Linked DNA regions of Homo sapiens: region 2 is linked to region 1. Evidence: fine-mapped expression QTL. A gene starts in region 1. The other region holds a variant in brackets. All regions are shown on one strand. Distances are from middle to middle.

Evidence for each region. PIP is the estimated chance that this variant, and not a neighbour inherited with it, causes the effect.
Region 2: its variant is the best candidate, but not a certain one, in a credible set for the expression of TMEM50A in whole blood (INTERVAL, PIP 0.82).

Annotation. Positions count from the first base shown.
Region 1 is chr1:25,336,660-25,341,050 of GRCh38, forward strand. It overlaps TMEM50A (transmembrane protein 50A), which reads left to right and starts at 1,675. Exons shown (of 7, transcript NM_014313.4): 1 at 1,675-1,797; 2 at 3,815-3,920. The coding sequence starts at 3,828. It also overlaps a transcript of RSRP1 not described here and the pseudogene LOC124904723. RefSeq lists silencers at 219-513, 1,505-1,624.
Region 2 is chr1:25,504,554-25,508,944 of GRCh38, forward strand. No RefSeq gene overlaps it. Among named protein-coding and RNA genes, the nearest start is that of LDLRAP1, 37 kb to the right of the region's middle. RefSeq lists an enhancer at 1,948-2,857. The variant G/C (reference allele first, on the strand shown) is at 2,464.

The DNA of each region.
Region 1 (4,391 bases):
TCATTAGCTATTAAAAGAGGATGTTTGTTTAAAGCTGCTCAGAGCTGGTAAACTAATGTTAAGTCACTAACGGGAATTTAAAAGGTTTCATTAAGAACTGCCTGCACTAGATTCCTCCACCCTGAGACATTAAACAATCACGATAAACCTCCTGAGTGGTAAGAACGTGTCCATTTAAAAACAGGCTATAGATTGTCATGCAGTTTTATCTACTAATCGGCTAATGCACCGCCAAAAACAAACAAAAAAACCCAAAGGGATGAAAGTTTCATCCATCAAAGGAAACAACAGTCACCTTGGTTCCCATCCCACTCATATACTGCCGCCGTACATGTCAATCAGATGAACCTGTGCGTATCTCTTAACGACAATTGACCCACCTTTTTAACTGAAGTGAAGGGGGGTTCTGCTCCGCGACCACTTCCTGGATCTCTCCCTTCACCCTCTGTGTTCTTTCGGGTGCACCATCGGGTCAAAGCCGCAGCAACGCCGTCTCTGTGTGATCGCATGTGCCCTTCTGCACACGACCTTCCCCCGAGAGTGACCAGCTACCGGACAGGCACCAAGGAGGGCTACCGAGCACCTCCCGGACCGGCGGCTGCAGGATCGCGAGCGCCTCCGCTAGGGAGACCGCACGTTGCGCCTGTGCTTCCTGCGGTGGCGCCTTCTGCAAGGAGACCTCGACCCTGCTCCCTCTCCGGGGCTGGATCTGACTCCTTGACGGTGATTCCAGACGCGAGACCCAAACTGACGGCTTCTAGAAGAGGGGCGAGCCCGGCCGCAAGTCTTTCACGTAGCTAAGTCATCGTTGCTTCCGGCTTCTTACCGTTCTCCCCTTTGTAAACGGTTACCTCCCGAAAACCCAGGCTCTCCTCCAACAGTGGTTCTCAAGCGAGGCGATCTTCCCCGGGAGGGGATATTTGGCAAAGTCTGGGGGCATTTTTGGTTCACTGGGGCTGCTACTTGCATCCACTGGGTAGAGGCGGGGGATGCAGCTACACAACCTGCGAAGCACGGGACAGCACCCTCCCCAACCCAGACAGAATTAGCCGGCCCAAAACCTCAGTAGTGCCCAGGCTGAGAAACCCTGCCTTAAACAAACAACAAAGAAAGGCCAAGTCCCATAAGTGGGTCACCGCGCCGAGACTGGGGTCCACGGGACACCCCAGCCACGCCAAGCCGGGAAGTCCCCGCCTCCTGGAGCTGAACCCGCCCCTCTCCCAGAGGTGGAGCTGCGGGGGGCGGGAACAGGCACGGAGAAAATAAACAAGACTAAAAAGTCCTGAGTAGCGCTGTGTGGCCGCAAACCTGAACCCACCTTTTGCACCACGCGGGACCCGGCACTCTTCCTGCCACCCACCCCTGAGAGGGCTGCGCGGCCGACCCCAGTACTAGAAAACACTCGTCACCTCACTCAAGACGGGTACGAAGGCCAACGGACGCCTTCCTTTAGAACGCTCAGCACACAGAGCAACTTCTCACGCCTACTCTCAAATGGCGTACTCCAAACTAGCACTCCCGACGTCCAGCTGTGAACCCAGAGCGGCGGAAAGCCCCTGAACCCAGCGCCCGGGCATGCGCAGACGCGTTGTTGTGGTGGGCGTGGCTCCCTCCGGACCCGGCGCCCCGCCCTCCGCCCCGTGTCCGCATGCGCGACTGAGCCGGGTGGATGGTACTGCTGCATCCGGGTGTCTGGAGGCTGTGGCCGTTTTGTTTTCTTGGCTAAAATCGGGGGAGTGAGGCGGGCCGGCGCGGCGCGACACCGGGCTCCGGAACCACTGCACGACGGGGCTGGACGTAAGTGTCGGGCGGGGAGTGGGGGTAAGAGAGTAGCGGCCGCAGGCTGGAGAGGCCTCGGAGCCGGGGCCGTCTGACGGGCTGGTGCCCACAGCACAGGCTCGTTGCCGCCACCCTCCCGGAAGCCGCAGACCCGGGCTGAGCCGCCGCGGACCTCTCCTCTCCTGGGTCCGGCGGCGCCAGGAGAAGGCGACGGCGTCCAGACCCCGCCAAGACGGAGAGGGGACCGCGCCCTCCCCCGGGACACCCCAGGATCCCTGGAAAATCCCCCGATCCCCCACTTCACAGCTGGACAAGCCGAAGCCCCGAGAAAGGAGCGTGACCCGGCCAGCTCCCTCAGCGAGGGGTGCCCCGGCTAAAGGTGGCTCCCCCATCTTCCAGCGGCGTCCCTCGAGACCTAAAAGTCCCAGAGTTTGGAGGGCGGGGTCTGGCTTGAGCGTACCAGTCGTCGTGCAAAGAAAAATGGATTCGGGGTGGGGCCATTGGGATGAACCGAAAATAACACTTATTGAATTGCAGTTCTTCCCGGGGAAGAATCAAATGAGTGAATTTCCTAAATTGAACTTGTCCCAAAGGCATCTTAGCATTGGCTGTAATCATATATTTTAATATTTAATTTTTAAAAGAGAAGTTAAAAATGGGAGACGTTGCTCTATTGTAGGGTGTCATATTTTTGGACAACCATAATTGCTGGCTACAAAGTATCTTAAGGAAGTCAAGTTCGCTGTAGGAGTTTGGGTGTTGTTATTCGCAAGTTATATGTATTTCAGGCTTTTTCATACTCTGAAATAGAGATAACATGGCTGTATCTCAGGTCTCTACTGCTCGGCTTACAGGAATGTTTTATATAATTTGTAAAGACAGCTTGGGTCGGCTATATTTAAATAGCAGTTGGATTTTTGTAATCTGAATTACTATTAACCACGATTCTGTGCTTGCTTTTGGCTGGAAACACCCGTTAGGATCAGAGATAGGGATATTAAAGTGGATGTTCTTTATATAGAAATGACACCAAAAGGCAGGCTTGCAGAAAGAAAAATAATGAATGAAGTGAAAGGAAATGATGTGGGTAGAGGTAAGAACTGCAGTGCAGTGTTTAATTTCTTGATTTAGGTGTGAAGAAACACACGTTCTGTGATAAAATATGTAAATTAGAGAAATATTTTTCATTTGAATCTGTAATTCCACTCAGAGCCAAAGTTTATCACTTGTCTCTCTACTAATGTTAGTGCTCCTGGACTGTAAATATCAAATTCATTTAATAAGTTTGGAATCAAAATGATACAAAAGAGCTCCTGTGGATTAGTAATCATATACTTGGTATTAAAAGTACCACCTAAACTAATTTAATACCTACTTAGAAATAATAGGATGTGACAGATTTTCAGGAGGAGGTCAACCAGTAGTTAAAATTTTTTCAATATTTGGAGACCCACCTTTGTTAATACTGCTTAAATATATCCAAACCATTTATTTCTATTTATTTATTATTATTTTTGAGACAGAGTCTTGCTCTGTCGCCCAGGCTGGAGTGCAGTGGCACGATCTCGGCTCACTGCAACTTTCGACTCCCAGGTTCAAGCGATTCTCCTGCCTCAGCCTCCCAAGTAGCTGCGATTACAGACATGCGCCACCACCCCCGGCTAATTTTTGTATTTTTAGTAGAGATGGGGTTTGCCATGTTGGCCAGGCTGGTCTCAAACTCCTGACCTCAGGTGACCCACCCACCTCAGCCTCCCAAATTGGTAGGATTACGGGCATGAACCACCACGCCCGGCCCCCAAACCATTTTTTACATTAAAAAAGATACTAAATGAATCCAGATATTACTTTCCAAAGTTATAATGTGGAAATTCATCAAAAACTAAATCAAATATTCTGAAGAAGTATGTGGAACCAAAATAAAGCATTTGTAATTTCACTTTTATCTAATTATTCCTGAGCTATTAATTATTTTTCGGGCTTGAAGCAAGTAAATGGAAGTACTTATTTAATTGTTTGTTTGTTTGTTTTTAAGTGACCTGAAAAAAATGTCTGGATTTCTAGAGGGCTTGAGATGCTCAGAATGCATTGACTGGGGGGAAAAGCGCAATACTATTGCTTCCATTGCTGCTGGTGTACTAGTAAGTGTCATTGATTATTTGGGCCTTATTTTTTGGTGCGTTTGTGTTTATGGGTTTTGAATTCTGCAGGATGTTTTAAAATATGTACTATTTATTTTATCTTTGACCACTTTGACCATGTTGATATTTTGTTGTTTGTGGAGAGTTATTAGTTCCACTTTAAGAGTTTATGGTTTAAAATTTGATTAACAAGTGGTTGGGTTGTTTTAACTGCATGGTAAAAATGGCATAATAAAACATTTGTTCATTATATGGATTATATCTCCTTTTAATGAGTATATTAAGGTACAAGGAAGTGTTTAAGACGCAGTCAGGTCAAAACCAGTCAATAGATGTGATTGCATTTCTCCATAATCCAGTTAACTTTCTTCTCAGTCTCAGGGAAAAAAAAGTGCTCGCTTTGGCAACACATACACTAAGATTGGAATAATACAGAGAAGATTAGCATGGCCCCTTAAAATTTTTTTTTAA
Region 2 (4,391 bases), 170 kb after region 1:
GGAACAAATGGTTCCCACTGGAGGCTTCCAGGGCTTCCATCACACTGAAGTGGGGACTTCCTTTCAGAACATCGTAGAATCTTTGTGTATTCAGAACCCAAAAGGCAGTTAAGATGATAGGTGATTTTCATTTTCTTCTTTATACTTTACTGTATATTCCAAATTATCTAAAATTCATATAACAAAAAAATGATTTTTAAAACACATTTTAAATGTGACTAAAAGCCAAAACAACAACTCCAAAATAATAAAAACCAACCCAAAGAGGAACTTGGAGTGAGCAGCGTGGGGTGAGGAGAAAGCCCCCAGCTGGCACTTGGCCCCTCAGTTGGTCCTGCTGAGGTATCTGCCTAGGCGTAGGGGTCTAGTGGGATCACAGTTGGCCGAGTGCTCAAGAAAGGGATTTAGGACCGAGGAATAGATGGTTACCTGTGAGGACTCGGCCTGTCATCTGTGTAAGTCATGTGTTGCAGAAGCCCTGAGATGCCAGAACTTGAGATTTTTCAACCAAAAACAAAAGGAATCTGGATAATGTGAAATCTCCCAATTTTTAAATGTTAGCTCAAATGTATTATCTGCAGATCAAACAAAATATGTCTGGAAGCTGCTAAATAGGAACCTAAGGCTGTAAAGTGCCTACGTTTTCCTGTTTCTGGCTTTGCTCCCAGTCCCTTGGCCTCTCCACGCACTGCAGAGTTCAGGAGAAGTGGGGCAGTGGGTCTCAACCCTGGCTGCTCATTAGAGTCACCTGGGGAGCTCTTAAAAATGCCCATGGCCAGGGCCCACCCTGAGAGCGCCTGATTTAACTGGGCTGGGGAGGAACCCGGGCTTTGTTTGTTTGAATTCCCCAGAGGTTTCTAATATGCAGTCAGGGTTGAGAAACTGGGAACTAGAGGGGAGTAAGAGGAAGCCTCCATCCTGCTGGGGCCTGGGACCTCAGAGGATGCATGCAGGTGTCTGGGGGCTGGGGCTGGGGCTAGGACTTCAAATGTTTTTAGCTGGCCAAGTGGAGATATGAGCAAAGTTGGTCTCTGCTGTCTTCCCACCTCCCCTGTGGAGACCCTCGTGTCTCTTCTTCTGGCCCCTGGGCTTCCTTCCAGGCCCTTGTCCTGGATTCCCCTTGTCAACCACATTTATCGCACTGTCTGCAAATATAAATTGTTAGCCCTCTCGTTTCCAAAAAGGAATTCTGCTAGCATCACCCCAATTTGTGGTTACTATGTGTCAGCTTATGAGGGTTTTTTAAATTATTATTATTGCAAGCCACAGAAGCTGACTGCGGCCAGTATAAGCCCAAAGAGGAACTGAATGAAAAGAGACGGGGCATGCACATATGGGGCTGTCGAGAGGGCTGAAGAGGCCATATGGGAAAGACAGGAGCCAGCCAGCATGGGCAGTTTGGAGGCAGGAGCTGCTCAGCAGGGCCCGTGGCTGAGTGAGTCCATGTCCCAGCTTCTCAAGTCAAAGTCGGGGGATGGTGGTAGATGTGTGCTACTGCTCCCAATTATCCACTCCATCCCTGCAGCGAGGTTGATCCATCCCACTCTACTCAGCGTCCAAGTTGGCCATATAACTTGCATTGGTCAATGGAATGTGAGTGGGCATCACGTGTGCCAGGTGTGGGCAGCCTGAAATGCACCTGAGTGCTTTACATCAGCCTCTTGCTCCTCTCTGCGGGAGAACAGCATCTCCCAGAGAGGGGCCACAGCTGGGTGAGAGGTGAGCCATGTCAAAGCCCGCCCTCAGACGTGGGAGCAAAAAATATGTGTTACTGGTCTTAAGTCACTGAGATTCGGGGGCTGTTTGTTACCAGAGCAAAAACTGATATAGACAAAGAGTCCAAACTTGAGTCATATGTCCTCCCCTTGGCTGAATCTTGGGCTGGAGAACACTAGCTGAGGGAAGGAGATTCAGGGCCCTTTTGCGGTCTGAATGTTTGTGTACCCTTAAAATCCTTATGTTGAAATCCTCACCTGCAAGGCCTTTTGGGGGGTGATTAGGTCATGAGGGTGGCTCTATGAAAGAGGCCCAGGAGGAAAAAGGAAAGATGGCCGAATAGGAACAGCTCCGGTCTACAGCTCCCAGCGTGAGCGACGCAGAAGACGGGTGATTTCTGCATTTCCATCTGAGGTACCGGGTTCATCTCACTAGGGAGTGCCAGGCAGTGGGCGCGGGTCAGTGGGTGCGTGCACCGTGCGCAAGCCGAAGCAGGGCGAGGCATTGCCTCACTTGGGAAGCGCAAGGGGTCAGGGAGTTCCCTTTCTGAGTCAAAGAAAGGGCTGACGGACACACCTGGAAAATCGGGTCACTCCCACCTGAATATTGCGCTTTTCGGACCGGCTTAAAAAACTGCGCACCACGAGATTATATCCCGCACCTGGCTCGGAGGGTCCTACGCCCACGGAGTCTCGCTGATTGCTAGCACAGCAGTCTGAGATCAAACTGCAAGGCGGCAGCGAGGCT[G/C]GGGGAGGGGCGCCCACCATTGCCCAGGCTCACTTAGGTAAACAAAGCAGCCGGGAAGCTCGAACTGGGTGGAGCTCACCACAGCTCAAGGAGGCCTGCCTGCCTCTGTAGGCTCCACCTCTGGGGGCAGGGCACAAACAAAAAGACAGCAGTAACCTCTGCAGACTTACATGTCCCTGTCTGACAGCTTTGAAGAGAGCAGTGGTTCTCCCAGCACGCAGCGGGAGATCTGAGAACGGGCAGACTGCCTCTTCAAGTGGGTCCCTGACCCCTGATCCCCGAGCAGCCTAACTGGGAGGCAACCCCCAGCAGGGGCACACTGACACCTCACACGGCAGGGTATTCCAACAGACCTGCAGCTAAGGGTCCTGTCTGTTAGAAGGAAAACTAACAAACAGAAAGGACATCCACACCAAAAACCCATCTGTACATCACCATCATCAAAGACCAAAAGTAGATAAAACCACAAAGATGGGGAAAAAGAGAACAGAAAAACTGGAAACTCTAAAACGCAGAGCGCCTCTCCTCCTCCAAAGGAACGCAGTTCCTCACCAGCAACGGAACAAAGCTGGATGGAGAATGACTTTGACGAGCTGAGAGAAGAAGGCTTCAGACGATCAAATTACTCTGAGCTACGGGAGGACATTCAAACCAAAGGCAAAGAAGTTGAAAACTTTGAAAAAAATTTAGATGAATGTATAACTAGAATAACCAATACAGAGAAGTGCTTAAAGGAGCTGATGGAGCTGAAAACCAAGGCTCGAGAACTACGTGAAGAATGCACAAGCCTCAGGAGCCGATGCAATCAACTGGAAGAAAGGGTATCAGCAACGGAAGATGAAATAAATGAAATGAAGCGAGAAGGGAAGTTTAGAGAAAAAAGAATAAAAAGAAATGAGCAAAGCCTCCAAGAAATATGGGACTATGTGAAAAGACCAAATCTACGTCTGATTGGTGTACCTGAAAGTGATGGGGAGAATGGAACCAAGTTGGAAAACACTCTGCAGGATATTATCCAGGAGAACTTCCCCAATCTAGCAAGGCAGGCCAACGTTCAGATTCAGGAAATACAGAGAACGCCACAGAGATACTCCTCGAGAAGAGCAACTCCAAGACACATAATTGTCAGATTCACCAAATTGAAATGAAGGAAAAAATGTTAAGGGCAGCCAGAGAGAAAGGTCGGGTTACCCTCAAAGGGAAGCCCATCAGACTAACAGCGGATCTCTCGGCAGAAACACTACAAGCCAGAAGAGAGTGGGGGCCAATATTCAACATTCTTAAAGAAAAGAATTTTCAACCCAGAATTTCATATCCAGCCAAACTAGGCTTCATAAGTGAAGGAGAAATAAAATACTTTACAGACAAGCAAATGCTGTGAGATTTTGTCACCACCAGGCCTGCCCTAAAAGAGCTCCTGAAGGAAGCGCTAAACATGGAAAGGAACAACCAGTACCAGCCGTTGCAAAATCATGCCAAAATATAAAGACCATCGAGACTAGGAAGAAACTGCATCAACTAATGAGCAAAATCACCAGCTAACATCATAATGACAGGATCAAATTCACACATAACAATATTAACTTTAAATGTAAATGGACTAAATGCTCCAATTAAAAGACACAGACTGGCAAATTGGATAAAGAGTCAAGACCCATCAGTGTGCTGTATTCAGGAAACCCATCTCACGTGCAGAGACACACATAGGCTCAAAATAAAGGGATGGAGGAAGATCTACCAAGCAAATGGAAAACAAAAAAAGGCAGGGGTTGCAATCCTAGTCTCTGATAAAACAGACTTTAAACCAACAAAGATCAAAAGAGACAAAGAAGGCCATTACATAATGGTAAAGGGATCAATTCAACAAGAAGAGCTAACTATCCTAAATATATATGCACCCAATACAGGAGCACCCAGATTCATAAAGC